6 separate regions of the Homo sapiens genome follow, and regions 1, 2, 3, 4 and 5 are each reported to be linked to region 6. The links are microRNA targets in miRTarBase. Many come from high-throughput screens and were not tested one by one. Region 6 holds a microRNA gene; each other region holds the end of a gene's coding sequence.

What was found. The annotated mature microRNA hsa-miR-1-3p reads UGGAAUGUAAAGAAGUAUGUAU and lies in region 6 at 2,335-2,356, shown strand. An mRNA with a match to its seed (bases 2 to 7 or 8) in the 3' UTR can be bound and repressed. Matches are read on the target gene's strand: a 7mer-m8 pairs with bases 2 to 8, a 7mer-A1 pairs with bases 2 to 7 and ends in A, and an 8mer does both.
Region 1: the mRNA of DCUN1D1 is a reported target of hsa-miR-1-3p. The part of its 3' UTR that is shown has no 7-base or 8-base seed match.
Region 2: the mRNA of SLC25A19 is a reported target of hsa-miR-1-3p. The part of its 3' UTR that is shown has no 7-base or 8-base seed match.
Region 3: miRTarBase lists ARGLU1 as a target of hsa-miR-1-3p. The part of its 3' UTR that is shown has no 7-base or 8-base seed match.
Region 4: miRTarBase lists GNA13 as a target of hsa-miR-1-3p. The part of its 3' UTR that is shown has no 7-base or 8-base seed match.
Region 5: the mRNA of SYPL1 is a reported target of hsa-miR-1-3p. The part of its 3' UTR that is shown has no 7-base or 8-base seed match.

The regions. Positions count from the first base shown.
Region 1 is chr3:182,940,628-182,945,994 of GRCh38, forward strand. DCUN1D1 (defective in cullin neddylation 1 domain containing 1) reads right to left here. Exons shown (of 7, transcript NM_020640.4): 7 at 1-4,546. The coding sequence ends at 4,467. Among named protein-coding and RNA genes, the nearest start is that of DCUN1D1, 37 kb to the right of the region's middle.
Region 2 is chr17:75,269,231-75,274,597 of GRCh38, forward strand. It overlaps SLC25A19 (solute carrier family 25 member 19), which reads right to left. Exons shown (of 8, transcript NM_001126121.2): 8 at 3,762-4,409. The coding sequence ends at 4,221. MIF4GD (MIF4G domain containing) reads right to left here and starts at 2,001. Exons shown (of 6, transcript NM_001370592.1): 1 at 1,914-2,001; 2 at 884-1,015. The coding sequence starts at 965. MIF4GD-DT (MIF4GD divergent transcript) reads left to right here and starts at 2,069. Exons shown (of 1, transcript NR_036520.1): 1 at 2,069-4,665. RefSeq lists silencers at 1,568-1,637, 1,748-2,407, 3,378-3,427 and an enhancer at 2,916-3,703.
Region 3 is chr13:106,540,253-106,544,252 of GRCh38, reverse strand. It overlaps ARGLU1 (arginine and glutamate rich 1), which reads left to right. Exons shown (of 4, transcript NM_018011.4): 4 at 93-2,580. The coding sequence ends at 257. Among named protein-coding and RNA genes, the nearest start is that of EFNB2, 6.6 kb to the right of the region's middle.
Region 4 is chr17:65,010,090-65,015,456 of GRCh38, forward strand. GNA13 (G protein subunit alpha 13) reads right to left here. Exons shown (of 4, transcript NM_006572.6): 4 at 1-4,740. The coding sequence ends at 4,168. Among named protein-coding and RNA genes, the nearest start is that of GNA13, 44 kb to the right of the region's middle.
Region 5 is chr7:106,087,181-106,092,277 of GRCh38, reverse strand. SYPL1 (synaptophysin like 1) reads left to right here. Exons shown (of 5, transcript NM_182715.4): 5 at 339-1,773. The coding sequence ends at 473. Among named protein-coding and RNA genes, the nearest start is that of SYPL1, 23 kb to the left of the region's middle.
Region 6 is chr18:21,826,004-21,831,370 of GRCh38, reverse strand. It overlaps MIR1-2 (microRNA 1-2), which reads left to right and starts at 2,283; the gene lies at 2,283-2,367. All of the region lies in intron 12 of MIB1 (MIB E3 ubiquitin protein ligase 1), which reads right to left. It overlaps MIR133A1HG (MIR133A1 host gene), which reads left to right. Exons shown (of 3, transcript NR_110369.1): 1 at 1-49; 2 at 577-751; 3 at 1,919-5,367.

The DNA of each region.
Region 1 (5,367 bases), not on the chromosome of region 6:
TAAAAGTAGAATGCCATAAAGGAAGTGGGAAAGGGCCTGCCTGCTATGGCCCTACCTCATGAAGGACAGCAGCCCCAAGTTACAGCTTCAAGACCAATGCTCTGAAGTATTACAAGCTACATTATGATTTCTGCACAGCATGATGGCAAAAAATAAAAAAGAAAACAATCATGAAGCACTTGTAAGTAAATAGAAAATTGGGCTATACTTAAAAACACTTTTAAAATCTCAATTTAAAAAATGGACAACTATAACATGATTCCCTTTAAATAATTTCCCTTTAAAACTCCATAAAGACATTACTTATTGAGAATTCCACTAACTACAAAGGCTGTGCATCTTTTACCATAACTTCCTTATTTGTGACAGATTTTTCAAAATCAACCAAAGGAAAATAAAAAAACACATTAATAGGAAACACTGAACCTAGTCAAATAAATGAGTTGGTGAGCAAGAAATGCTACTTACTCAACAGGTAGGAAAGAAAATAAGATAGCAAGAATGCTCTGATAAAATCATTTATGTAACTATATTATGAGTTTGAAAAAACAGCACTATTTGCCTCCAGAAATCGGGTACAAATAAAGCAAATATTTAAGAAAAATGGCAACAAATAGCAAAGATAAACCTGGAAAAGGGCATTTGTACTATTAGGAACTTTCTCATTTATCTTAACTACAAAATATACACCCCTTTCCCTCAGAAATCAAAGATAAAGGTGTCATGATAAATAACTTCACCACAGTCCTATGAAATAAAAATAGAAATTATTGCTATATTATGATTGTAAAAATGGAGGCAATAAAGAGTTCAGAAATATACTCATTTATAATCAATTAAATGATGAGTCATAATTTGAACCCTAATTATCACATTATGTAGAAATCACAATTCAGGTTTTGTGTCCCCATTTATATGTTAAATAGTTCACATTTAAAAAAACATTTTATCATTACATTATCAAATTTGATAAAATCTTATGAAAACATCTAAGTATTCAATATAAATCATACTGTTAAAAGTATAAGGTAACATTAAAACTGCTGAGGTGCCAGATAAGTATTTTCTGTTAAATATACACAATTTAACATTTAAAACTACATAAATTAATTCTTGCTAAAAGTTGATTCAGTTTTACAAAGGCATACTTTGTGAACCATGGTGAATTTCCCCAGCACCACTTTTTTATTCCAAAACTCCTTCGATTAGGTTTAACTTTCTCCTGTCATTCATATGTGAAAATTACAGAAGGTTTACAATACGTAGTCTTAATAGTAACATGTTTAAAAACCTAAGCAAAGTGTACATTAAGTTAGCTACTACTACTCACTTCTTGATTATCATCAAATAAAAAATAAATGAACACTTCATTCATTTAAGTCTGAGGAAAAAATAGTGTACCTTGCTTAAATAAGAATTCCCCAGTAAAGATATTACGTAAAGGATTTCTCATGTTATTTTGTTGAGTAAATTTACTTTCTCTCATTAAAACTTTTTAAAAGTCTAAGGAAGGACATGTACTTATAATGCCATATTATGCAAGTACAGTATTGTTAATAAAGCAGCCCAGTATAGTTGTAAACATCTTAAATGTAGTAAACAAGACTTGGCATGTCTTTTCTCCCCAAAACATGCCATTACAATGCTCTTTCCATGAATAATTATTCTTCCTAGAAAAGTTTTCAGGTATATTTTAAATCTATAAAAAAAATACACTGAAATATGTGAAAAGATTTAGTCATGGCAATTTCACTGCAGCTTTTATTGCCTCTGTTGGTAATATGACAGGGACTGTAAGAAACACAATTGAACTTACAGAGATATGCAGATGATATTCACTAAAGATAATCTTCATCTCAAGTATTTTTTATATGTGGGCACTTCTAATTTTATACATTTTTCTATTTAAAAAGCATTACATTTTAAAATTTGTACCTGTTTTGACATTTGGCAAAAAGGAAACTGTACCTATGGTTCAGTTTAAAACAAAGAATCAGCATGGGGAGTTTACCGGAATGAGGACTGAAACACTTAGGAGTTAAAGCAATTCAAGGGGCGTGTGTGTGTCTCTCCCTTTCTCTGTCAATCTCTCTCACTCTCTCTGGCTCTCTCACAGACACAGACTCAAACACACACAGCCATATGTGTAATCATTTTTTAGTACAAAATATTCCCTGTAGCCAGACATTTATCTTCAGAATAATCACACCACATTAAATCAGTCTTCTCTTTTCAGCCCTAGTAAAAGTTTTGTTTAATTCTAAGATGCCATCATAGTGAACAACCTTAACTTTTATGCTACATAATTATATTCAAAGCTTTATGTATTTTTGTTTATAATTACACAGTAATTATAAATGTTTAGTACCAACCTGATGACAAACACTATTTTGTTGAAAAGGTTTTGCATTTAAAAAGAAAAATATGTAAAATCCAAGGCACTAGGCCACGAACCAATATGACTTTTAAAGAAAACACTTTATATTGAAAAAAAAAAAAAAAAAAAAAAGCTAATGGGATCTCATTTCAAAACACAGCATATGTGAATTAATCAATCTGAAACCAATAACCATAACTCAAAATCTTCAAGACAGGAAACAAAACAGTACATATATATAGATATATAGATATATATATCTTTTAAAAATTTTTCATAATTGAAGTTCCTCTTTATATTTACAAAAAAATCAGGAAATACTGAAAGCAGCAAGATTCTTCTTTTTCCTTTTTCTTTTAATAACCAATTCCAGTAGCCTGAATAGAAATTTTCAAATTTTTCTTTTGGTAAAACTGCATTCTTGAATTAAAGTTATGATTGGAATATTAATATGTCTATAGGGAAAGCTTTCTAGTCTATTTCAAAATCATGTAAAAAGCAGTTTTGATATGTCATTGTTTCTTAAAATAATTTCCATATTTGCATAAAATGTACTGCTATTCTAAGTACATTCCTTTGTTAATATCAACCCTAGACCTTAGAGAGTGCCTGGATATATATCCCAAGCAGAATCTATTCCTATCAAAAGACCATAATCATCAAACATTTGAAGTATTACATTTCTAGCCTGCCTTACGGAAATGTTTAAGAAAGCAAGAAACCCTTCTTCACATGTCAGTAAGTGAACAGGGAAATGACCATTTTCAGCATAAAAGCAGCTCATGGGGCTTGTAATGAAAAAAATACATACAAGATAGCATTCTGCTTTGATGAGAAAACTGAGCTAATCTGAGTGAAACGAAAACAGTAAAGAGACTAGAAGCCAGATTGGTATTTTGCATCGTGTATGCTTGTTTGAAAATCTTTGCTCCTGAAGTAAATATTTGGCAACCACAGTGATTAGCAGTTAAAGCAATTTCAACAAAATAATAAGTCATCGAAAATGGACTATTTGTCTGAAAGAGCAGTACCTATATTATAAAGATTGAACTTCATGGCTCATTACAACCATTTTCAAAATTTAACTGCAACTATCTTCTTATAAATTAAGAGAATTCCATTTGTGTTCCATAGTGCGATGACAAAAAAAAAGTAAAAACAAAACAAAAAAACCCTCATGCCTAAATTTAGAATATTGTATTGTGTAGCAATCCAAAACATTCAAAACAAATTAAATAGTTTAACTTATGTGACAGGCAGATAAGCATTTCAAAAGCATAATGAAGTCCAATTATGTAGTGCATAATGTAGACAGGAGAAGAATCTAACATTATGCAGACATTTTCTAAATAAAAGCTCCCTGTAGGACAGCTATATATAAACATGGGTAAGGTAAGCGCAGACTAGTTCTGTGGAACCTTTTGAAATCAAGAGTCTAAAACACAATACATTTTTCAGGTAGGCACCAAGTTATCCTAAAAAATTTTCATGTCGGTTATTCTGACATTGTTTTTTCATCAGATACTCACATCAACAACACATGTGATTTGCCAGGAAAAAAAAAAAATTCCCCCCAAACCAAAACACCATTCCAGATCCAGTACACTTAAATATATCACTCTCACTGGAAGTGCTATTAGCATAGTCTTTGCAACTAGCCCAAAGCGTATATTTAAGAAGTTTTTATAAATTGTTTTGTGATGTTCATATGTTTAATTCTTATGCCAACTGTTTTCTGATGAAGACAGCATTGTGCTTTATGCGAGAATGAAAACCTCAAAATAATCACCATAAAGCTTCTAAGACTTATGGGAGAATAAACTAGGATGGTCCACAGATATAAGATGAAATCCACAATGTTGGAATTATAAATGTTTAGAGCGGCCCAGACTAGAAGACAAGCCCAAACCACCATTAGAAGAATGAAATACGATATGGTCCAAGATGTATCCTTAAAGTTTTGTCTCAACCCTCAGTCTGAATTGTGAGGATTGATCTTCAGTTCAGTCCAGCCAGCAGAAATTGACTGTGCAATTTTCTGTTGTATTTATTGTACAGACTATGTACATTCTAGAAGGTTCCTTTAGTGCTACACTGTTGTACTTTTTGTCCCAGCAATTTGAGGGCGTGCAAATTCCACAAAGTCATCAATAAGAACAGGCCATGCTCCTGGAAAAAAGAAAAAATATGAAAGAAAGAGAAGGGGGAAAAAAGCAGAAATAAGGCTAACATTTTAGTAGAATCCTTTTTTTAAGACTTCCTCATAAGCGTTAAAGTATATCATTCTTATCTATTCCCACTGATTAAGTCTTTCAAAACTCAAACTTTTTGGAGTTTTTACCCCAAATATTCCTTGTATTCCTTGTGATTTATTACTCCAACATTTGGTTGTTCCTTGAGTGATAAAAGTAACTTGTCTGGCAACTCATCAATAATATGATTTTCTCAAGGCCACTGCAGTCAGCCAATGGAAGTAATTTGGTCAAAACTGGCAGCCTGAGGCAGGAGAATGGTGTGAACCCGGGAGGCGGAGCTTGCAGTGAGATCGCGCCACTGCACTCCAGCCTGGGGGACAGAGCGAGACTCCCTCTCAAAACAAACAAACAAACAAACAAAAAACTGGCAGCCTAAGGAGCAGCTATGAAATGATAGCATGCTGCCAGTGCTGAAGGCATAGGAGGAGAAACAAGTTTTCAAGCATTCTGTGGCCATCTCACAAAGGAGATTAACAGGAAGTGTCAAATTCCATCCTATTTCATGCTAATACGTTACTAAAAGGTGTAAAATTGCATATATGCATGCCTCTACACATTCACATGCCCATCACCAAGTCAGAAAGCTCTCCATTTTTGTGTAAAACCTACCAGAAGACACAATTATTAGGTATATGCAGGATTAAACATTTCTCACTTTGCAGGGAAGATTATAAACGACAACGAAATGAAGAAAAGAAATAACATCATCCCTGATTAGCCTTAATGATTCCAGGA
Region 2 (5,367 bases), not on the chromosome of region 6:
AAGTGTTCTTATACTACACACATGCAAACCCCCAACAAGAGAGGGCCACATAGGGCCTCCCAACAGGCTCGGCTTGACACATGATGGGTGTTGCTAATTATTAGTTGAAGACAAACCTCTGTACTGCGTGTTACAGCGGGAAGGCATCAGGCGAGAGCAATTACTATAGCTCCTCTGGCAAACGGAATATTCTCCATCTTCTGTCTCAAAGCAGGCAACTGTGCATTCAAGAGACGGGGCTATGGCAGCACAGAAACCAGCAATTCAAATGTAAGCGCTTCAAGGGCAGGAGCCGTGTTCTTTTTTTTATGGTTAAACTTTTTTTTTTTTTTTTTTTTTTTTTTTTTTGAGACAGGGTCTCGCTCTGTAGCCAGGCTGGAGTGCAGTGGCAGGATCATGGCTCATGGCACCCTCACCCTCCCAGGCTCAATCAATCCTCCCACCTCAGCATCTTAAGTAGCTGGGACCACAGGTGCCTGCCACTATGCCCGGCTAATTTTTCTTTTCTTTCTTTTTTTTTTTTTTTTTGTAGAGATGGGGTTTACACCATGTTTCCGGGACTGGTCTTGAACTCCTGGACTCAAGCAATCTGCCCACCTTGGCTTTCCAAAGTGCTGGAACTACAGACATGAGCCACTGCGCCTAGCCCTATGGTTAAACTTTTAAAACAGTCTTTACAGTCTGAGAGGTGACTGTGATTCATACTCCAAAATAATGGCCTCAATGTAGCTTGTCTTCCAGTTCAAGAATTACGTTGCCGACTCCTATCGTCAGAGAATGAGGGGAGGGGTGGAGGCATTCACCAGGCTCAGCCTCTGGTGCTGCCCACAGGGGCCCTTCTCTGTAGCTCCTGACCCCAGCTCAGGAGGGGTCCCGTGCTCACCTTTGAGTGCTGTCTTCAGCAGCTGCTGGGTCTCTGCATCAAAGGACTGGATTTTATACTCCTCTCTACTGGGCTCCCCCATGACTAGCCAGCCCCGGTAGCTCTTGACTGGGCTGGGAATAAGGACAGCACCTGAGGAGAAGAGGCGAAGGGAGCGGCCTCAGGTGTGGAGCGCAGGGCGGGTTCCGTCCTGCAGGCCCTGGACGGGGCTGACGGCGCGCTCGGGACAGGGACTCCTGGGCGGTCCGTGGCGTGCGGTGGTTGGCTGAAGGCCCACCAGGCTTGGCTTCTGGTGGGGACTGGGCATCAGCCAGGCACCTGCTGCTCAGTTTAGAAATCCCTCGCTTGTGGGATTACACAAGAGCGAGAAGCTGAAGCAGGAAAGCGCCCACCCTCCAGTCCCAGCAGGAGGCAGGAGTAGACTGGGGCAGGGTGTGTGCGGGCGGACGTTACAGTTGCTTAAATAAACCGGCCTGACGTTGCTGGCCCAGGAAGATGCCGGGTGAGGGCCAGGCTGGGAACTCCAAGCGGTGCGACTCTGTCCCCAGCAGGTCTCCGAGCCCCTCTCCCCAACCCTCTCTTTCTGGCTTTCGCCGAGTCCTTCGGTCTCAACACCCGCCGCTGCATCCCCCGGATGGGGCCGGCCTGCGTGGGTGGGGACGCAGGCGCCCTGTCCGCCGCCCCTGCCGGGAGCAGCCTGAACTCCCCAGACCCGTGCCAGCTTCTCCCTGGGACAGGCTGGTCGGATCGGCTCCCGAGTGGCAGTAACCCGGCCCTACGCACTCGAGACTCCTAATTCCTGAGCTCCATTCTGGAGCCTTCCTCTTACTGGGGGGCAGGATGATGCGCCCCGGAGAGGTGGCTCCCGCCGGAGGCTCCCCTCTGGCCGTAGGAGGCGCCTTTAGGGTCTCCAGCCCTCGGCCGTTCCCCCCGCGCCCGGAACGCCCCTCCCGGAGGCACAGGGCGGGCTGCGGAGCCCACGGCCCAGGGTCCCGCGGGCGGGAGAGGCGGCGTGGGAGCCGGGACCCACCTGCCGGGCCGGTGGCGCGCGCGCGTGCCCGGGGCCGCTCGGCGCCTGGGAGCGCGCAACCAGCGTCCGGCGCTGCGGGGCCCGCCGTGAGCTCATCTCCTCGCGCGGCGCCGGGGAAGGGTCGGCTCGCCCGCGCCACCTGCCGGGCCCCCGGGGCACTGCCCTGGCCTCCAGGCCGCCCCGGAAGCCGCGCCGCCTGCGTGGGACCCTGCGACGCTGCCACCCAGCCGCAAGCGGAACTCGCTTGGCTCGTCACCCCTTCACCCGGTGCGCCTGGGCCGTGTCCGGGCCCACGCCGGACCCGCCGGCACCTCGATCTTGCGCGTGGCCCCGCACCCAGCCCTCCCCGGAGCTCAGGTGCACTGGGCCGGGAGACACCGCTGGGCTGCGCGGCGTGGGAAGAGCCTGCAGAGCGCGTGGTGGGGACCTGGTGGCAGGAGGAACAGCATCAGCCCTGGTCGCACCACTTTCCCCGCTCCCCCAACCCAGGTAGAGAAGGCAGGGGCTGCAGGGCCGGGGCCAGCCACAACCCTCTCCCGCTCCAAGGAGGACATGGGCGAAGCGAGTTTCAGGTCATAGGGGCAGCCCCGAGAAAGGGGCCCCATTGGCAACTCGCGGCCGTCGGTTGTTGCGAATGCCCCTGAAGTGGCGCGGACCCCACCGCCCGGCGTCTGCCCTGGGTGACAGGAGGGCACCTAGAAGTGGGGGAAGAACTGCCGCCGCTCCTGCCGCGCGACCGGGAGGAGCGCTGCCGGCGCTGCCCGCGTTCTCGCCTCCTTTTAAAAGAACCGCCAAAGTGGTCACCGAAAACGGAGGAGGAAGAGAACGCTCAGCTGCAGCAAAAGAAACCAATGGGCAGGAAAGATGAAGAGAAGAAACTTTAACGGAATTTCATAAAAAATGCATTCAGGCAGCTGCATCCTCGTGGCCCCCGCCGCAGCCTGGACCTTGGGAACCAGCAGCCCAGAGCCAGGAAGCCCCAGCATTCAGGGCCCAGACAGACCCCAAAATCCCAGACCAGAGGCAGGGAAGGATGGTGCGAGGAGGAGCCCAGGACCCACACGCCAGGGCCAGGGCCAGCGCCGGCTCCCAGTGGGTGCCTCTTTCCAAGGCTGGAGAGGGAGGCAGAATGGAGGGCTTCCCAGGTCGGAGCAACCCTACAGGCCGGGCAGATGGAGGGAAGGGTGGAGGTCATGTTCTGGAGACCTCCCCTCAGCCTGGAACTGGTTTCTCCTCTGCCTCTCCGCCTGTGGGTGTCCCTCTGCTCTGGTAACACCCCAGGCACCAGCTGTGCCCTCACCAGGCTACGTGCCCGCCCCTTCCTTCTGCCATCCCCATCAGTGGGCTGCTTCAGAGCCACGGCCCTTCTGGGGCTACAGGGGAGGATGCACCCGCAGCATGCTCTGCACTGAGGAGCAGGCAGTGGGCGCTGATGCCACCTGTCCTGCTGATAGCTCCTCACCCAGCAAGGCTGACCCAGCTCTGGGTGAAAGAGGAGTCAGTGAGGTAGACTGGGGAGAGGCTGCACCTTCACCCACGCCTGCCCACAGCATGGCCCATCCACTTCCTGCACGGGCGCTGGGATCTGCTTTCCATGGAGCCCCACGGCCATGACCAGCCCGGTCCTGGGAGAGGACAGCCTGGGTGGTGGTGTGTCTGCAGACACGAAGGTCTGGGCACGGGGCCCAGAAAGTGACTGGCTCAGCCTGGAGTCTCCCCCAGCACTAGAAGCAGAGCTGCCAAGGGCTGCCGCTATGGAGAACATGGGATTTGAGGAAGGCAGGAGTCCTTTCCCTCATACTTTGTGAGTAGGCAGATGTGCCAGGGGAGATGGAGTAAGATAAGGAATGTGTGTTTAGCTTTAATGTCTATTAAATAGGTTGGAAAAACAGGCCAAGTGTAGGGACCTGACTCCTGCAAAGGGCCTACCGCAGCCCTCTGCACTCAAGCAGCAGCCCCATCCAGACCAGGAGTGTGTTCTGTTCTCCTGGCAGGCAGGGCTGATAGGTGTAGGATGGCGTCTGTTTCCTTTGGAGTGTGGGCTGGTCAGAGGAGAAACAGCAACTTCCTGCTCCTTCTCACTGTGTCGTTGGCTCACCATAGACCACGTCCTGCATTCCCTCTGATTCTCTCATGGGGAGAGCCCTGGACCTTCTGGTGGTGTCCCAGCTGGGTGGGTTCAAGGCTGCTACCCCGCTTGGGGCAGCTGGCCTGCAGGGAAGGGCCAGACGGCACCTCTCAGTGGAGACTGAATCTTCCTTCCTTCAGGAGGCTGCCTCCAGGGAAGACCTGGGGTCCTTCCTGCACTCAGCGCTGGCTGGCTGTCCTGTTCATGCAGTGGAAGACATTACAGAAGAATTCATACGAGAAGAACATGAAGCCTGTGGAGAGGGCAGCCTTCAGCAAGCTGGGGGACAGGCCCTTGAAGAAGCCCAGGGCGCCTTCCTTTTGCAGCACCTGCTTGGCACAGTCCATGAGGCCCTTGTATCTCCGTACCTGGGGAGAGGAAAGGGATGAAAATATGGATGCCCGCTCTGCTCCCATCAACACAGCCCCTGGCACATCACAGATCTTAAGAAGTACTTGCTGGACAAAGAAATGAATGCAAAATAGCAAATTATTTTATTTTTTCGTTGAGGCAGAGTCTCACTCTGTTGCCCAGGCTGGAATGCAGTGGCACAATCTTGGCTCACTGCAGCCTCTGCCTCCCAGGTTCAAGTGATTCTCCTGCCTCAGCCTCCTGAGTAGCTGGGATTACAGGCACACAACACCACGCCTGGCTAATTTTTTGTATTTTTAGTAGAGATGCAGTTTCGCCATGTTGGCCAGGCTGGTCTTGAACTCCTGACCTCAGGTGATCCACCTGCTTCAGCCTCCCAATGTGCTGGGATTACAGGCATGGACAACCATGCCCAGCTCAAAATAGCAAATAAATTAATTTCATTCTTTCTACTGTAATTGGGTTAAGACTGAACAGATGACAGGCCTAGAAATCAGAAGCTGGACAGCGCTCCTTCCTGCCCAGGAAGAACGGCTGCCTGTGGCTCCAAAGGATCCAGCAATGGCTCCAGAACCTCTTCCCAGAGGCATCTCTGACCCTTCATCCCATCCCACCTGATCCCCCTTGGGCAGCAGATCTGAACCTGGCCCTCAGTAGCTCTCAGCCGGGCCTCCCTGCCTCCAGCCTCACCCTCTCCAGCTGACCTCACACACTGCTGCCAGACATTCATCCCCAGGCACAACCCTCCTCAAGCCTGGCTTCCCTCCAAAAGCTGCAGTAACTCCTAGTGACGACATCATGAGAAATCAAGTCCAAACCCCAAGATCTGCCGTTTAAGGCACTGCACCATTTGGCCTTGATTTCCCTCCCTGATCTGACCTCCACTGGTCCTCCCACGTGCCCTTCCCACCTCTGGCCAAACTGGATTACACTAGTCTTTGTTAGCAGTAAGGC
Region 3 (4,000 bases), not on the chromosome of region 6:
TTGTAGATACATAATAGATAACACCTGTTGCAGGGGTACATATGATAATTTTTAATACATTTCTATAATTAATTTTTACTTTTAACTTTCAGGCCGAAGAACAGTTGAGAATTGTTGAAGAACAAAGAAAGATTCATGAGGAAAGGATGAAACTAGAACAAGAACGACAACGTCAACAAAAAGAAGAACAAAAAATTATCCTGGGCAAGGGGAAGTCCAGGCCAAAACTGTCCTTCTCATTAAAAACCCAGGATTAAATTGCAAACTCTGAACTTTTTACAAAGAAAAATGGAAAAACTTTGTATGGTAGCTTCATGTTGAAGTGGTTTTTTGTTTTTGTTTTTGTTTTTTTAATTTGTAAAATCTGGAAAGTTAGCTTGTTCTAATAGGGGCTATGCTCTGCAATTCCCTTTTTTTTTTTTTTTTTCCTTCCACTAAGTCAAATCCTTATCAGATCATTGTTGTATTCTAAGGAGTGACGTATTTTTCACCTGTTTGGATTCTATATTAGTGGTCTGAGGAAGAGCAGATCACATTGTAAAACTATGGATGGTCTGATAAGGCTTTTACTGACCCCACTGACTTCAGAGTTATACTCTGTTTGCTACATCATAATGCTGGTTTTGCTGACTTTTTGTTTTTTTATATATTTATAAAAAAAGAAAAAGTTGGTGATTGCATTGGGAAATTCCCAGGGTATTACTGGACCTATGTGGTGTATTGTTAAACCAGTGTCCTTGTGATACTGTTGCTCTTGATGTTCCTGATACAGGTAAGGAAACAGTTGGTCAACTCTGATACAAAGTATATATACAGTTCAGTATTGTCTCTGTTCATTTTGTTTTTATTTCATTGACAAAATCAAACCAGCATTCCCCATTGTGTAAATAAATGATTTTGCTGAATAAAGTAAAGTCTTAAATTCATATGTTGAAGCAATTTTTTTTAATGTTATGTTAAGTCTTAAAGAGGGTGGTTCACTTTTTGATGGTCAACCATTTAGAAGTCTTAGAACTATATTTCCTCTTGTTTATACTTTTAACATAGGGTTTATATGTACATTAAATATACTTGTGAATTAGTATTTAATGGCTATTTTTACAAATATCAACTTTATGCTGATAGAGCAAATGGCATCAGTGTTACCTTTAAGAAAGACTAACAACATCCAGAAGATTTAAATTCTCAAACCTGTGCCTCTGTTTTAGGATATAAGTATTATCACAAAGTATACTTAATAAAGGCTAGAAAAATGCTTTTAAATTATGGAATCTGAGATCGTTTTCAGAGTGGGCCATCAGAAAGAACTTAGCTTTATACTGTCAAAAAAAGGCTAAGATGGTCGAGTCATTTTCATTGTGTAGTGTACTTGCACGTTTATTTTTAGGACAAACACATTTGAACTTTATGAATTTTTTTTTTTTTTTTGCATGTGAAATCTTATGAATGGCTTTCATTTTATACACTAGAATCTGCCTCATTTACTCTTAACATATGTTTAAGTATACTGGTATTAAAACATTCAAGAAAAGGATATTGATCTAAAATGCTACCTGAGATGCATAAACATGTCATCAAGTAGAGAAAATATTTTTATTTTTGCCCAATATTTTTTAGACAGTTTGATTATTCTTAAAAATTGAAAACATAAGCTAAAGAGATGACTAAATGGTAGATTATTTTGTGTGTGCATGCTAGGAAAAATGCTGTTGCTTTAGTTTTGAGCTCTTCAATGAGTCTAATTGTGGTAAGGAACAATATAAAATCAGTTTAAAGATCTTTAAAGGTAGAATTTTAAATAGGCATGAAATATAGTGAGAACTTTTAGTAAACATACTACTTACTCTAAAATCAAACATTTTATTTTCCTAAAGAATATAGGTTGCCAAAAAATATTTTATCTCTAAATATAGGTTAGCTGTAATTATTTCATGAATTTTTTTTTTTTTCAATGTAACTTTTTTTGGTGAAGATTCATGGTTCCTAAGTTCTGTATTCAAGTTTTTGGAAATGTTTATTTAAAAACTGTTCTATACAAGTGTTCAAAACATTGTATCTAAAGAGAGTAGCCTGGACTTAAAATATTTGAAATCAGCTTATGCGTGCCTTTTAATTTTTTTTTTAAGTTTCTTACTGCCACATATGGTGTGAAGTGACAGTAAGTTGCTTAATGACATCCTGCAGTATCTGCTTGCTTTTGGAGACTCCAGTGAGATGTTGAAATTGTTCCTGTGCTTGGTAACTACTTTCCTCTGCCAGGCTATGGGAAAGAGGATGTAATTGTGAATAATATACACCATCCAGTCTTTAATGTGCTGCAACAATGTAGTAATTTGTTTTTTTCATTTGTTCCCACTGCCTTTGTGTACATAGAAAACTTAAAAATTTCCCCCAGTCTATTAGAAGTTAAGATGTTCCCTAATTTATTAAATATGCCTTTATTCACAATTTGTTTTTTTAGGTTATTCTTAATGCATTATAGAATTAAGTATGACTTTGTTTATTTTTATTACAGTATGTAGTTATTGACATATTGTGGTTTGCAGAATTATCAATTGTATAAACTAAACCTTTAAATTAGCTTGGTGTGAGGACTCTTTAATGCTTTAAATTGGGGAAGGGGTTTGTAGTATGAGATTTTACCTACTTCAGTTTCCCTTATGAAGATGCAGCAAATCAGACTATTTCTACCCTAAGTAATCTCCGTATTCATTTACTGTGCTAGTATGTGTCCATAGCTTTTTTTTTTTTTTTTTTGTATCACCACCTGTCCTGGATTTAGCAGTATCTTAAGAATTTTCAGTGGTTTGTATTTTTTCAATTTTCTAAGTATAGTAAGCGTAGAATCCTGACTTGTTGAACTCTATGTATCATTTCTAATGCCTCATTTTATGAGGAGCCTGTCACTTCACTGACATTTCTCCAAAGCTATTTCTATCCATTAGAGCGTCTCTTTTCAGTTGTCTAAATTTTCTGCATCTTTACACGCAAAACCATTCATCTGTTTTGTATTAATGGCCATGAGAAATACTGAAGACAGGCTATCCTAATTTTTGAGGCTCTCCTCCCCCTCCAGGAGAGCCTTGTGAACAAGTACTAGTGTTACTAATCAGAGGACCTCAAGAGACTGCTGAAGGTAAAAGCCTCAACCTGGAAGTCTAGAATGAGTGTGGAAGCCCAAGCAATAGACCCTACTTTTTTGATCTGTTGAATTGCCATTTAACAGTGGTCTTGATTCTTTCACTATCTTTGTTGTCTGTAACGTTTTTTGTTTACTCTTGCGTTGTTTTTGGCTTTTAACATTCAGTTGTCCGTGATGATGGAAAATGTGGTGCAGTAATCTAGAAGATTTGCATTTGCTGATAAACTACACTGTTTACTTTGTAGATATGCTTAAGATGAGTGGATTGTATTACCTAATCCATCCATCCATCCATCCATCCATCCATCCATCCATCCAGTATTGGTTCTAGAGTAACTGATTTAGTGCTGGCAAACAGTGGAAGTGGGGGATACAGAAGACCTAATTAAGGGATTTGCGTGTGTGAGAGAAATAACTAGCTTCTTACTCCATTAAGTATTTCTTTGGAACTTCCTTCTGGTATTACAAAGTAATACAAATCAGAGTGGTTGCTTTTACATCTATGTAAGTGTTCCACAAGTTAAGTGCTTTTATACCTAAGTCGTCATTGGGTTTAGAAATTAAAACTTAATTGGAAGTCATACTTGATGATTTATCTTTTTCTGAGCCTACAGTGGTTGATCAGAGGATGTTGGGACAGTTCTATTTTTATATTTTTATTTTTTGCTCTAGCTCTAAAGAGCCAGTACATTAGAGAATAGTAACTCCAGTGATCCAGCTGTTTCTCTCATTGTTTTTGTATCAATGCTATAAAAGTGTATTTGTTTTGTTTTTTTGCCCCCCCCCCCCCACCCCCGCCAATGGTCTCTTGCTCTGTCGCCAGCCTGGAGTGCAATGGTGTAATCTTGGCTCTGTGCA
Region 4 (5,367 bases), not on the chromosome of region 6:
TTCAAAACAATGTTCATATAAGCTCTCGCATTTGAAACCAGATGGTAAGACCTGAATGCTACAAGAGTGAACATAACTTAAATGCTAACTACACGTTCAAGTACAGACATAAGAATGCTAGTGGTACAAACACTGTACTCCAAATGATGTTGTTAATCACCTACCAGCCTAAGACTAGTATCTACTTGATGGAACTTGAAAAAGCCATAAAGTCCAACTTGTTTAAAATGTTCAGACTTAGACTTACACTTCAAGATCTAGTATACATTTATTAATAAGCCCTAACCTCGTACCATAAAAAAATGGGCATGTGCTGTATTTGGGACATGCGGACACACCCACACCCACCCACAATCTCTCCCCTCCTCATGTTTACTAGACTGAAAAGCCACCCTGTATCCTATCATTAAAAAACAAAACAAAACAAAACAAAACAGTGCTTTTAGTCAAGCAGCACAACACAAGGACAGATCATCTGTGATTAACAGAAGCGAACGCCTTAAAATGATGGGAGAGAGACAAATTAACTAGGTACTAAGTCAGATTTCCAAGTGAAAAAGACATGAGCAAAACTTCTGGTCTTAATTTCTCAAATAAAACTAAAATAAATGAAATGGTAACAGAGTGACTTTCTCTAAATTTATTAGGGAGTTTGTTACAAATGTTTGGGCTTTACAGGCATGATTTCACGGATTCAAACAAGAAATTAACACTGATATTTAGCCTTCTCATGACATACACAGAAATAACATTGCTACAAACTGCAATGGAGAGAATCTTGTTTCAAATGGCTTAGTTTGGGGTTTTGTCTAAATGTATCATTATATAATGAAAGCACCAATTTGAGGGTTTCTCAAATAGTGATTTGAATTTTAGGACATAACAGTGTAACATGGTAACTTTATTCTTCATATATAAATAAGGCATAATCGGATGTGTATTAATGCTGAAAATACATTTTATCAAAAGCATAAATACAAGTATTTGGGTACACATTGAAAGTTAGGACTTAACCAATTTCTTCTTACAAAAAATGATAAGGACATATGGTATTTGTTGAATCTAAATCAGCACTTCTAATCATTTCTGGTATTAAGGCGATCTTATTTCCTTCTACTTTAAACCAACCACTGCCACCAACTGAATAAGGATTTCCCTAAACAGCCTCAATTTGAGAGACTAACCAGAGGACCTTCTCTATGCAAATTACATGCCAATACACCTTAAAAGAAAATAAGACAAAAGTGAATGAGTTTTTTCATTCCATATTGCTTTCTTTGGTTGCAGAGCAATCCAGTGCCCTTTCCAGATAATAAAATTGAAATGAAGATTTCAATTTAATATTTGGCAGACAGCAACAATGCAGGTTATTAAAAATATTAAAGGGGCAGAGGCATGCTTTGAATTACTCAGATTTTCAGAAAACATTTGACAAAACCCTTTCTCTATAAAAGTTATGGTCTAAATTTATGTTGTTTTATAAGGCAACTGTATATACATTTCTTCAAGGTCAATGAAGACACTTGTGTGATATTTCCTCAGAATTAAATGAGAAGGCATTCAGATTTAAGAACAGAATGTAACACAGGATTAGGCACATTTTATTCCAAATCATAACCATAAAGATTTAGAAAATCAAATACATCAAAGAACTTTAAATCTAAATTACTTTTTTAGAGACTGGGGTAAGTTTGCATAGTGAAATTATGAGCACCTTTTCAATTCTGTTCACTAAATTTCATCTCTCTCTTCATATAGTGGTATTTCAAAAGGATTCAGTTTTCATGATACAGGTGTAAGACTCCTTTCAAACGTTTTTAAAATACAACGTATAAAAAAATGTGGACTGAAGCCTTTAGATTGAACTTAAAGTTCTACTGAATGTCAAAACAAGCCTAAGTTGAATATAAGTAATTCATTGCCTCAAAATATAGTCTAGATTTTAAAAGAATGTTGATTCTGAGACATTACATGCAGCAGGGAAGAAAACTGCAAATGCCCAAAATAACATGATATCTATTTGGTGTTTCAACACTTCTTGGTGGTAATTCAAAAGGGGGAAACTTGGTGATTTCTGCTTTGTCAGGCAATATCTATGGTTCGTATCACAGATCTTAACTATGACTTAAGTAAGATGAAGTGTCCTCTTTCTATAGGGATCTAACTTGAGCCCTCACTGGAGTCAAATGTTTTGGCCATTCAATTTGCTAAATGTATGGGTAAACTCTCCAATGAATAGTCCAAATGTTACTGTGCACATATTCCGATATTCATTAGCACTGCAATTATGCTAATTTTGTGAATTTAAACAATGTATTCTTTTTGGCAAGAAGCACTAGATGTAGAACTATTCAAACACGCATGAATGATACCATGATACCACGAACATGCACGATACCATGAACTTGCATCACGGTGCCGGGCTACGTATGTGTAGCTCATGGATTACCATGGCATGAAAATGCTAGAAGTTATATGGATACAATGATAGTGGAAGTTCAAATGTGAGAAAAGTCAGGTATGTCAAGAACAATCCCTGGTTAGTTCACTGAAAAGCCCCACTCTCGTATCAGACAGCAAGACAGAACAACAGCCACTGACTTGGAAAGGCTGGGTGATCCATAACGACCAATCTTTCAAGGACCAATAAAATACCTGAGTACACAGTCAGCTATACAGTAAAATGACAGATATCACAGTCTTAAAATTTTCAGGAAAAGTAGAAAAGCTGTCAGACTTTTCAAGCTGTCGCCAGCCTTGGACTTCTGTTTCTCTAATTGTAGCACTACATACAGCCTAGAAGATAGTATTTCAGTACTGCAAACCAGCCATTCTGATGAGTTCACTATGAATGTATCTGCGATCACAAAGCTACTTCGTGGACACATTTTAATTTGGTAAGCAGTCGGGGGAGGTCAATGTAATCATCTTTAGGTGCGAACTAAAAAAATTACTACTGATCCTTAGAAGCATCCTTAAAACATTTAAAATATACCTCAAAAAAGCTGGACTTTCAACAACAACAATTATACAAATGTATACATACTGTATCTGTTAGAGACACACCAAGAATGAACAGGAATCTCAAATAATGCCTTCTTGAATAGTCTTGACAGAAAAATACTGCCCTTAGCAAACTCCAAATAAACAAAACGATGCCACAAATGGCACAGTGTGGAGTTGATGGGACTGGACAGGACAGCAAAAGATAGATGTTTGTGATGATACAACAATGATTTCCTACAGTAAGGATTGGTCTTTACTGACCAACTGAGATAGGGCTTAAAAGTCAAATACATGACATTCTGGAACAGGTTAAGTTTATTTAGAAAGTTCTGTTACCAAGTTGCTTGCAGTTTTTAGTTGCTGCTATGGCCAGAATGTTTCACATATGGTACATTAAACTACATGATAATTAAATATGAGAAAGGCAAATTCTATTTCACTCGTTACGTTTGACCAAAACACGGTAAACAGCATTAGCTTGCCTTTTGCTCTCCCATACCACCTGTGAACTCTTCATCAGCATCAGACCAAAGATCCTTATGTAAACTTGAAAACAGGAAGAACATTACCTTCAGAAACACAGAAATCTAAAAGCAAAACAGCTGTTGTGTATACAAGCAATTAAAATATGAAGGCTAAACCTTCTATAAACCTACAGAATGCCATTTCTTAGATAGAACTTCTAACAGCCCTTACAAAATAGGAGGTCACCATAAAGTTAGGCAACAAGTGTCACTGCTATATGTAAGGCGGACAGAAGATATCTTGTTTTGGAACTGAATATTCCTAACCTCATCCCTACAAGTATTTAAGGACACCTTTGATACTTGGCACTGCAGGAGAATTCAGTTTGGAAAGTAGAATAATTTAAAGCCTGAAATATGCCTAGTCTGAGGTCAGCTGGGAGGTTTTAACTGGACTTGAATAGAAGCCATGGTGAAACAGATCAAAGCCTGCATTACAGCAAATCTTGGCGATGAGTCACTCAACAGCTTTCAGCCACAAACCAAAGGCCGCAGAAAAAGTACTAAGATTTTCAAGAAGTTAAACGTAGAATTAAGATTGTTCTAATTCTGGTTGTAAACTGCTATTTTAAAAAACAAAACAAACAGAAAACATCAAAAACACAAAAAGATATTAAAACAGCAAGTCTTTTGTACATCACTGTAGCATAAGCTGCTTGAGGTTGTCATGCAGAATAGTATCCTTCACGTCACGGAAAACAAGGCGGATGTTCTCCGTGTTGATAGCAGTGGTGAAGTGGTGGTATAAGGGCTTCTGTTGCTGGTCCCGGCGTTTGTTCCGGAAACATTCCACCAGGAATTTTTGGACGTCTCTTAAGCAGTGGGGATCCCCTTCAAATTCTAGGAAATAGTCTTTGATGCTCACAATTTGCACCTTCTCCTCAAGCAAGTCTGTCTTGTTTAAGAACAGAATTATGGAGACATTGCTGAAAACCCGGTTATTGACGATTGTTTCAAAAATGTTCAGAGACTCTGTAAGGCGATTGGTCAGTCGATCTTCCATAAGCACCTGGTCAAATTCACTTGAGGAAACAAGGAAAAGTATTGATGTCACACTGTCGAAACATTCAAACCAACGTTTCCTTTCTGATCTCTGACCACCTACATCAACCATTTTGAAAGGAACATTTTTTATTTCAAAGTCGTATTCATGGATGCCTTTGGTGGGTCTTCTGGCAAGCAGAATATCTTGTTGTGATGGAATATAATCCTGGAAAAGAAAAAACTTGTTTTATACCTATTAATCCCGAAGTAATGCGAATTTTTAATGGACTACTAACTGGACTAGTGAATAGATATGCAAACAAAATGATCTTTTAAGTGACATTTTCAGATAGATTATGCTTATTATAAAATGCCAAGACTGGTCAGACATGGTGGGTCATGCCTATAATCCCAGCACTTTGGGAGGCTGAGGCAGGAGGATCGCTTGCGAAGCCAGGAGTTTGAGAATATCCTGGGCAATATAGCAAGACCCACTTGTGCTCCCCACAACAAAAGCCAAGATACATTAAAATGTTAGCAGGACGGGTTCAAAATTTACTACAAATGGCCAGAATCTACTTGTTTTCATCCCTGCAATACTACTCAAAATTTAAGCTGAAGTCTTATCAATTGTTCTTACCCACCCTCACTGCTATATATCCACCTGCAATCTTACTCCCCACTATCAGCCACTCTTGGTTCTAGCCAGAGTGATCTTCCTGTCTGCGTATCTACCTTCTCCACACTGCTCCTTGCTCCTCTATTAAAAGCAATGGGGGCTGGGCGCGATGGCTCACGCTTGTAATTCCAGCACTTTGGGAGGCCGAGACGGGCAGATCACGAGGTCAGGAGA
Region 5 (5,097 bases), not on the chromosome of region 6:
GGTGATAAGTAAATGGGAAAAGTTACACAAGCAGTTGATAATCATTCTAAATAGGAGAAAAGTGAAAAGTATTTGGAAGAGTAAATCTCTTAGCCATGATTTTATATGTTAGAGATTTAGCCTTATTTCATTGGGAATAAGTCATTATATAACCACATTTTGTACATTGAAGTGTAGTCTTCCTTATTTCTCATTGTGTGTAGTATTAAACTTTAAGTGAAATAATGGCGTACTTCCTAAAAATGTTAAATATTTAAAGAAAAAGTGAGATTTTTAAGTAGGGCATGAATTTTTATAAGTAGGTATTTGATTTTCATATTTCTTTTTCTCTTTCATAGATATTTGGCTTTCTAAATATGATACTCTGGGGAGGAAATGCTTGGTTTGTGTACAAGGAGACCAGCCTACACAGTCCATCAAATACATCTGCCCCTCATAGCCAAGGAGGTATTCCACCTCCTACCGGAATATAATTAAAGGGAGAAATACACTGTATGAAGTATATGTTGATACTATGACATGTTGCCAACACCTTGAGAAGCATTATTTGTTTCTAATAAAAGTAATGGCTTTGTCAATATATTGGTGGGTTTAAAACTTTGCTGCTTTTTTACATAAAGCCTGTGCCTTTCCTAGAAAGTTAAGATGTAAATGTATTCTCACATGTAAATTTGAAAGTTCAGGGGTCTATTATGAAATGATACACATTTTTAAATGAACCATAATTTTTTTCACTAAGCTGTTTGCCTTCCAAAGTGTTTACACCTTAAGCCTTAACATGTATCTTCATTCAGAAAACAGTTATATTGTCATACCATAGTAGGAAGAAAAACCTTTATTTGGAATATACACTACTGTAAGTTTGTACAGATCATATACCTACCACCTGTCTTTGCTTAAAGAGCCTTGATTACATAAATATGTAGGAAAAAACATATTGAGTTCAAAATTTATATCTAACATTGTTTATGTTATGATTTTTTTTTAATTGCAAAGACTAGGTGTATATTTTTTTCTGTTTTTCTAAATGACCCGTGGTACTTAATAGGTGTACTAAAATTGTGTTGGGAGCAGGGATTTGGAAATTTCTGAGAGATGTGTAGTTAATTTAGTAATTCTGTTTCATGAGATATGATCTGTTATGCTAGTGGTTTAATAGGCTTGCTATGTAAGTAGAACGTGGCTCAACTAGATATCTTTATATGTATGGGCATTACTCTTAGTGATATTTGTTTCCTGTCCTTTGTTGCTCATGCTGTTTAAGTGCAGGCTGAGACCCAGCCTCTTTGTAAGTACAGTAAAATAATCCACCGTTTTTTACAGACCCTAGTCAAAGGGTTAAAAAAATTAAGATTGCTTTCCATGTTTGAAATTTACCATTGAGAGTCAATGAAGTTGCTATTTTGAGTTTAGCATTGATATTGTGAAAATAAGTGCAATTTGGATTTCATGTTTCTTAATATTCATTCTTGTTTCACAAATGAATGATTAAGGAATTATGCATCATAAAGGAACCTAAGTGAGGTATATGATGAGTGTATTGTCTTTGCACACACATATAGGTATATTCTGAATACAAGCTTATTCACATTTTGCTTCCTAATCTTTTTGTTGTACAGGGATTCAGGTTTCTTATTCTTACAACATGATTGTTTATATGTGAAGCACATCTTGCTGTTGCCTTATTTTTGATGCTTTTATTCATGACAAGAATTGTCAATATAAGAATGTATATCTTTTTTGCAACCAATTTAATAAAGGAGTTGAAAGAAAGAGTGCACTGATTGTTAATATTACAAAGAAACCTTCATCTTAAAGGCATTGAGCAGTGCAAAACAGAACTGATTTTCAAAGCAGGAAATAGAATCACAGTTTTAATGTTTGGCAAGGAATAAAACAGACAGAAATGCTTTGGAGACTATGGTTCTATCCTTTTTTCTTCCGACCTCATTTAGAAAATACTTATTTGCAACTCTTAGATTGTTTTCCTGATATACCTTTTCTCATTAATTGTCTAATTAACTAGCAAAGATTCCTGCTTAAGAGTGTGTGCTCTGCAACCGAACTGCCTAGATTTGAATCTTGTCTACACCACTTACTAGCTGTTTAACTGTAGGCAAATTGCCCTCTGTGTGCCTCAGTTTGCTTATGTGGAAGTCGGAAATAAAGTAAGTAGTTCCCTCCTGTTTACTGGGGATATGTTTCAAGACCCCCTGGGATGCCTGAAACCAAGTGTAGTACCAAGCCCTATGTGAACTGTCTTTTTTCCTATCCATACATGCACCTATAATAAAGTTTATCAATTGAGCACAGTAAGAGATTAACAAGGACTAATAATGAAGTGGCACAATTAAAACCATACTGTAGTAAAAGTTATGTGAATATGGTCTCTCAGAATATCTTACTGTACTGTACTACGGGGAACTGAAACTAAGAATAGTTAAACCACTTTCCTGATCTCAGTGTGTTTATGATTTAAAAGTGAATTAACAAATGTAAAGCCCTTAGAACAGTGTTCCGCATTTAGTAGGCACTCTATAAATGTTAGCTACGATTACTAACTTTTGATAGCATCTGATATAGAGATTCTTAAACTAGGAATTCATGGGGCTGGAGCCGTTAGGGTGGTGGTTTTGGACAAAGAGAGGATTGGCGTCAGGCTTTCAAGCTTGTCCCTTTACAATCCTTAAAGAGTTCTGGATCTTTTGGTGTGTTTTATTTTTCTGTTGGTTGACATTCATAAGGTTAATGAGATCAAAATTTAAAACTTAAAAGTATTGAGATTAAAGTAGATCTTAAAAGGACTTCTATTGCCTTTTCCCTTTGTGCTTTTGAATCAACATTACAAGGTTAACCCATTTATAGGATAATTTCCAGGAGAGAAGCAATAAAAGCTTTACTTACTAGGTGTTAGGTTGTAGAGAATTATTTATAAAAAAGATGAGCATTACTAATGTTTTAGTGAACAGAGGTCAGTTGAATAGATGTTTAACCTACTGTAAATGTTAAAGGCAATATTGCTTATGTTTCACATTTAAAATTTTTTCATATAGTATTTCAGATTAATAGGTAAGTATACAAAATAATATTTAACAAATGCTTTATTTGCATCAGATGTTTGTTTGTTGAGACAGGGTCTTACTCTGTCACCCAAGCTAGAATGCAGTGGCGCCATCTCAGCTCCCTGTTAACCTCCACCTGCCAGGCTCCAGTGATCCTCCCACCTTGGCCTTCTCAGTATCTGGGACTACAGGCACGTGTCACCATGCTTGGTAATTGAAAACATTTTTTGTAAAGACGAGTTCTCACTATATTACCCAGGCTGGTCTCAAACTCATGGGCGCAAGCAGTCCTCCTGCGTCAGCCTCCCAAGTGCTGGGATTACAGGTGTGAGCCACCTCACCCAGCGTTGCATCAGATTTTTTTTTTTTTTTTTTTTTTTGAGATGGAGTTTCACTCTTGTTGCCCTGGCTGGAGTGCAATGGCGCGATTTCAGCTCACTGCAACCCCCACCTCCCGGGTTCAAGTGATTCTCCTGCCTCAGCCTCCCAAGTAGCTAGGATTACAGGTGCTCGCCACCATGCCGGGCTAATTTTTTTATTTTTAGTGGAGATGGGGTTTCACCATGTAGGCCAGGCTGGTCTCAAACTCTTGACCTCAGGCGCTCCACCCACCTCGGCCTCCCGAAGTGCTGGGATTACAGGCATGAGCCATCGCACCTGGCTTTGCATCAGATTTTTTTTAAAGGAAATAAAACATTACAGATAAAGCCTTTTCCTTACTGAGGTAAAGTTACATTTTTCCTACCTTTCACTATTAAAAATAGCACACAAATATTCTTCTGCAGTGTGTGAAGGCTTCTCTAAGACCTATCACTAGAAATGGGAACTATTGGAATGTGAGATGTTCATGTTTTCCATTGTAACCTAGGTATTCCAAATTGTTCAGCAAAATGTCTGTAACAAGTTAGTCTCCCACCAGCAATAAGTAAGATTTCCTCTTGCTCCATATTGCCAATAACTTGATGTTTTTGGACTATTGCCAATCTGATAAGTTTGAAATTGTGTCTTTGATGCTTTAAAATTTATGTTACTCTGATTGCTATTTAGGTTGGTGGTCCTTTCCTGTATTTATTGGCCATTTGGTTTCCACCACCCTGTACTGCCTATTCATATCCTTTGCAAATTTTTCTGTTTGGTGCTTTTTCCTGCTGAATTGACGTGCTCTTTATGTATTCTTGGTATTAACCTCTTGACATTTATAGAGGTTGCAAATATCTTCTCTCTGTTCCTGGCTTGCATTTTCACTTTGTGATTTTTGTCATATAAAAGTTCTTTATGGCCGGGGTCGGTGGCTCACACCTGTGATCCCAACACTTTGGGAGGCCGAGGCAGGCGGACCACCAGGTCAAGAGATGGAGACCATCCTGGCCAACATGGTGAAACTCCGTCTCTACTAAAAATACAAAAATTAGCTGAGCATGGTGGTGTGTGCCTGTAGTCACAGCTACTTGGGAGGCTGAGGCAGGAGAATCGCTTGAGTCCAGGAGGCAGAGGTTGCAGTGAGCCGAGATCGTGCCACTGCCCTCCAGCCTGGTGGCAGAGCAAGACTCTGTCTCCAAAAAAAATAAAATAAAAAAACAAACTTTATTTTAATATTAATGTAAGTATCTTCTTCACCGTTGGTGCATTTTGCTGTATTAAGAAATCCTCAATGTCATAAAGATATTAACCTTTTTTCTTCTGAATATGGTTTTTCACTTTTTAGTCGTTAAGCAGTTTGGGATTATATTTTTGTACGTTCATGGTGTCTACTTCAATTTTTATAATTTTCAATACTCCTATCCAATTTTCATAGTACCACCTTTATTTAAAAGTTTATCTTGCCATGCACAGTGGCTCTCATCTGTAATCCCAGCACTTTGGGAGGCTGAGACAGGTGGATCACTTGAGGCCAGGGGTTTGATACCAGCCTAACCAACATGGGAAACCCCGTCTCTACTAAAAATACAAAAATTAGCCAGGTGTGGTGGTAGGCACCTGTAATCCCGGCTACTCAGGAGGCTAAGGCAGAAGAATCGCTTGAACCTGGGAGGCG
Region 6 (5,367 bases):
TGTGGAAGTCCTGACCTCGCTTGCAGACTTGACCTCTGGATGTGACAAGGTAGCTTCACTACAGCTCTACTATTTAATCCTGGAAACTAAAAACCAAAAAAAAAAAAAAAAAAAATCTAAAAGCAAGAAAGATGCAGACTATTTCCTAAGAAGTCAGAAGAACCCAATGTATTCTGGAGGGCAAAGAAAAACAGGGTGAATGTTTACAGTTATTTGGGGGGAGTAAGGTGTGTTTTGGGTTCTGTTTTTGTTTTTTTTTTTTTTTGTCTTTTTTAGACTATAAAATTAACTTCTGCAACTTTTTCCCCTCTTCTGAAGCATTTCATCTGACAAGCTAGGTTCATTTTCTTGGCCTTTGTAGCAACCTTTTTTGATTGCTTAACTTTCCCTATATAACTGTGCAAGACTGTTATATGACATTCCAAATCAAATGGCCAACACTGATTCAATTTTAGAGTTGTTTTTGTTGGTGGTTTTTGTTTTTGTTTTTGTTTTTGGTAAAGGGAAGAGGGGAGGAGAGGGAAAAGTAAGCTTGTTTTTTGTTTGCTCGTTTGTTTTTCAAATTTATCTTAAAAGGTGAGGTTCTGTGTTCACTGATACATCCCCTTCCTTCACCGGGCTCATGAAAAGAAATGCTGAATCAGCAAATAGAGTGAACGAACAATCAAGATGAGATGGCTGCTGTTGATGTGATTCTCTAGGTTACTACCTTTCTTCCTGCTGCAAATGCTGCATGACACTAAGCTTACAGGTAACAGAGCACCATAAGGCCTGTACTTTTAAGGATGCTTATGACTTTCTGCATGCTTACCTATTATTGACTCAATATATGTTCTCATTGTTAAATTAAATTCTATCTAACCATAGCCTAATTTCACAATTCAAGTTAAGAGCTAATGTAGTGTAAAAAGGAATATTGTTCAGATACTATGGCAGTAACTTTTTATCTTAAAAATGTACAAATACATTATTGTCATTTACATTATTAAAGATTTAGTCATTATTGTTTCAGATTAAGTGATGATTTTGCATCTCTAGTAAGTCACATCCTGCTTCCAAAGTATACTTATTTTCTAAAACTATTAGCTTCTATTTCAAGGTTTAGTCAACCAAGAAACTTGGCAGATCATAAAATACTTTTTAATGCTTACTAATAATTGGCCACAAAAATAAATCAGAACGTGCATGGTGTAATTCTAATGCTGCATTGCTGAAACTGCTGTAGTGCTGGGCTATCTACTGCTACATTCTGATTTGCTCTCTATAAGCTGCACTAGCTTTTTATCACAAGCTGCAGAAATTCTACTATCCCTGCCCTTTTTTTTCCTCCTTTGACAAATCTGAAAATTTCTTGAGGTTTTAAATTAACCTTCTAATACCACAATAACTGAAGGCTACTTACCAACTATAATTTCTTTTCATTCTAAACTATCAAGGTAAATAAAACCCAGGTGCTCACAGACTAAAACCTTTCAGTTCTTTGAAGTGATACTTTCTAAAAGTTGACGATTCTGACAGTTATCCTTTATACTAAAAAGATTAAAGAATCAAAACAACTTAAACTCACCAAAATTAGATATTTCTACATCTATTTGAATTTGTATTCAACTCATATTTGTATTTAACCCAAAGAGAAGCATCAAAGTGCAAACTTCAGGTAAGGAACTAATAAAGAAAAAAGAATGACAAATTTTCAAATGATCACGAGTTCTTATCTGTGACCTTATAAAACACTAACAAAAATTCATAATCTTTAAAAAAGTTCAATTCACCCACACTCATCCTGGTTTTTCTCCTTGTTGTTTCAACTTCTAGAGTCAATATCAGAAATACTTATTGGTTAATTTGTTAGGTTTTGAGTAAGATATCTAGTTTGTAAAAAAAAAATTGAATTTAATTAATTACTATCTACCTGTAGGATCTAGAAGCAGACTACAAAAAAAGAAGAAATTCACTCTGAAGACTGAAGAAACACTAGGCTGATCTTAAGTTTCCGAAATACACTCTGTAACACTACACTGATTCTTTGAATCTCTTGCAAAAAGAATCAAACCAGGACAAAGTTCAACAGATAACTGGTCAAATGCTTAGGAATGTCTATGTCCACCAAGAATATGGAACCATTAATGCCATGCTTCAGGTAAACTTGTTACAAAATTTAGTCTTCGATAAATTAGTCTCTGCAAATGATTTACCATTGCTCTACATTAGTAAGCTGAATGTTTCACTAACAAATAAGAAAATAAAATATTTCATGTTTTTACAGCTAACAACTTAGTAATACCTACTCAGAGTACATACTTCTTTATGTACCCATATGAACATACAATGCTATGGAATGTAAAGAAGTATGTATTTTTGGTAGGCAATAAACCACCAAGGGAGAATTAAACTGAGCTAAAAGAAGCTCTTGCTTCTTTCTACGTGAATGACCGTCATATGGTAAATTAACCTAGTCATGAACAGATGACCTTTGGCAATACTAACACCAAAAAAAAAAGGTTATCTACTACTGATAGATAGAAACTATCCCTAAGGTTTTTATTTCATGAAGGAAAAGAAGATCCAGTGAAGTAGATTTCAATTATCATGAAACTCCTTTTAAATCATCTAAGTTTAAAACAGACATCTTACATTTTTAAATTAGGCACTCTCATTATTAAAATTTGACTGCAAAAGGGAAAATAGTATTACTAGCACAAAAGAATGAGGAATACACATGACCTATTTTCTGTCTCCACAATTTAATCTTAAGTATATCTCATTAGTAGGGCTCACTGATTTGTACAGAAAAATAAGATACTAAGAGCTGGCTTCATTCACATAATAAGCTATTTCTTCTCATTTTGATAAATGTATAATTAATATTAGAGGAATTTCTGACCAAAAGTTTTGTTGTTTTAAAAAGGCTTTCTTTTTTGACAGCTACAAACATAGTGGCCCTTGTCCTTCCTTCTCAAGTTTATCAGGGTCTTAACCCAAATCTCTACTTTAAATGTGAAGTTAAAACTTAAAATTAATTAAAATGTAAGATTTAAGCATGAAAAATGACAAAATTCTGGTCCACAGCTGTAAGTCAGCAGGGTATATTGGTAACAGACTACCAAATATTTAAAAGAAATTAATTTATCTGTATTATCTTCGAATTTGCTTTCTCCAAAGAGGGCATGTAAAATGAAAGCACTATAGTCAAGAACCAATTTATACAGATCGAAGAACTGTTTTTATTGTACTATGCAATTACAATTCAATTTCTCTAAACTTGATCAATCCATTGTTTAGAAATATCAAAATACTTTTATTTCACACAGTTTGTATATTATTTATAAAAAATTCCAAATAATGCTCTTAGCAAAATTTATAAGCAGTACCTGTTTTAAGCTACTAATGACAAAGTTAGAAAATAAGAGTAATATTCACATATTCTAACCATTTCTTACTAAAAGTATTATTTCAACTGAAATATTTACACATGTATAAAAGCATAATATTTTAAATTTTTTGTATCAGAAATTGAATGGAAATGACTAAGTTTAACTATAGTTCATTTTCTGTTTAATAAGACTAGTTAATACAAAGATGATTTTCATTTTATCAGATTATAAAGAATGAGAATGACTTACACATGGCATCATATGTGTTACTGCATGTTTACTGGAAATTATAAAAGGCACATAATTTTAAAATTCTACACTTTCAAAGAAATTAGTTCAAAGCTTAACTCACATAAGCATAGCCCTTCTGATCATCCACAAAACAGAATGGCAATGATTCATGTTCTATTTGGTAAGTTTACCTGTATAGGTCCTAAATACCAAGAACTCAAAATATATACCTCAAAAGTAGAGGTTCTTCTATAAAAATACTCAAAGCTTATTACTCTACTTGTGTTTTATAATAAACAGTTATATTGGTCATTCTATAGGTATACAAGTTGTTTAATAATCCTTCTCAAACATCCTAGCAACTAAGACTCTCTTTGCTATAATATTAAGACTATATAAATAATCCTTAGAAAATAAAATGACAGGCTATTCATTTTTAAAAGTAAAATTATATGCTGATTCTGGTGCTTGCGAGTTTAACTTATCTAAGAGTATTTTCAATCACTCTAAAATGTCACATCTATCACTTAGATCAGCTGTTCATTTTTAACTGAGTACATATTAAACTCTGGGCATCTGCTGACACTGGTATAACTCAAACATTTCAACTGTCTCCCTGACAGGGATAACAGATGCTGACATTATCAAATGCTGTACTATTTTTTTCCCATGGCCTCTCCTTGCCCCGATATGGCCAGTATATGAAACTGAACTGCCATCCAAAAACACACTTGAGCAACTGGATCTGCTAAACAGCTCCCATATAACTAGTAAAAATAGAAGCCAGTATTATTGCTATCTTCAGCACTTAAGTTTAGGCAGTTTAACACCTGTTTCACTTCTACTAGAAAAAATGATGAAAAAGAATTGTAGTTAATTTCACCAGCAGTATGATACTTACCAACCAACAGACGCAGAATATACTTAGTGTAAGAGTCATTTGCATACTGCCTGAATTAGCGTTGACCTCTCAGTTTAAAATAGTAACTGTAAAGAATATTTCTCTACTCTATATTTCTCTGAGAGCACTTAACTTTATAGGCAAATTATAATTTATCAAACTTTTATTTTATGCAAGAAGACACCCCTCTCAAGACATTGAAATCAACAGTAAAACCACATTATAACAAAAATTTACTCTGATTTTTCAAGTATTATCCACACAATAGATTTTAATACTTGTATCCATGGATTGTAACTAACCACCATGTATTACTAAGGCGATAATGAGAAGTAACTTGGCAATCTGTACCCAAAATGACAAAGAACTTAGTCAAGGAAATAGACCTTTAAAAGGGTTAAATTACTAAGCTATGATTAGTAACACCACGTAAGCAAAAACAAAGAAAAACTGGCATGCATGGTAGTTCCTTTCGACACAAGTCCAAGCAATACACTGAATACACATGTGATCTATTTATAAATCAAAGGGCAGAGGTACTTTCTTAAGGCCACTGATATTCCTACACCCATCAACAATTTGCTATTAGCCCTCAACTATAATGCTAAAAGAAGCAGTGGCAGTAGAAGGGGGTGACTAACTGAACTCTTCCCCAACCTTTTAGCTTAACTATTTATCTGGTTTGCTGCCTAGAGATAAATGGAAAACATTACTCTAAAATACATCAAGGTCTATTTGTTCCTTTAAATACTATTGGTTTTGAAATAGCTTATTGTCTACATGTAAGAATTAAGCAAAGACTTCGGCTGTGGACAAGATTAGAAAAAGAAAAAGAAGCAAAGATGTTGAAAACAAAGACGT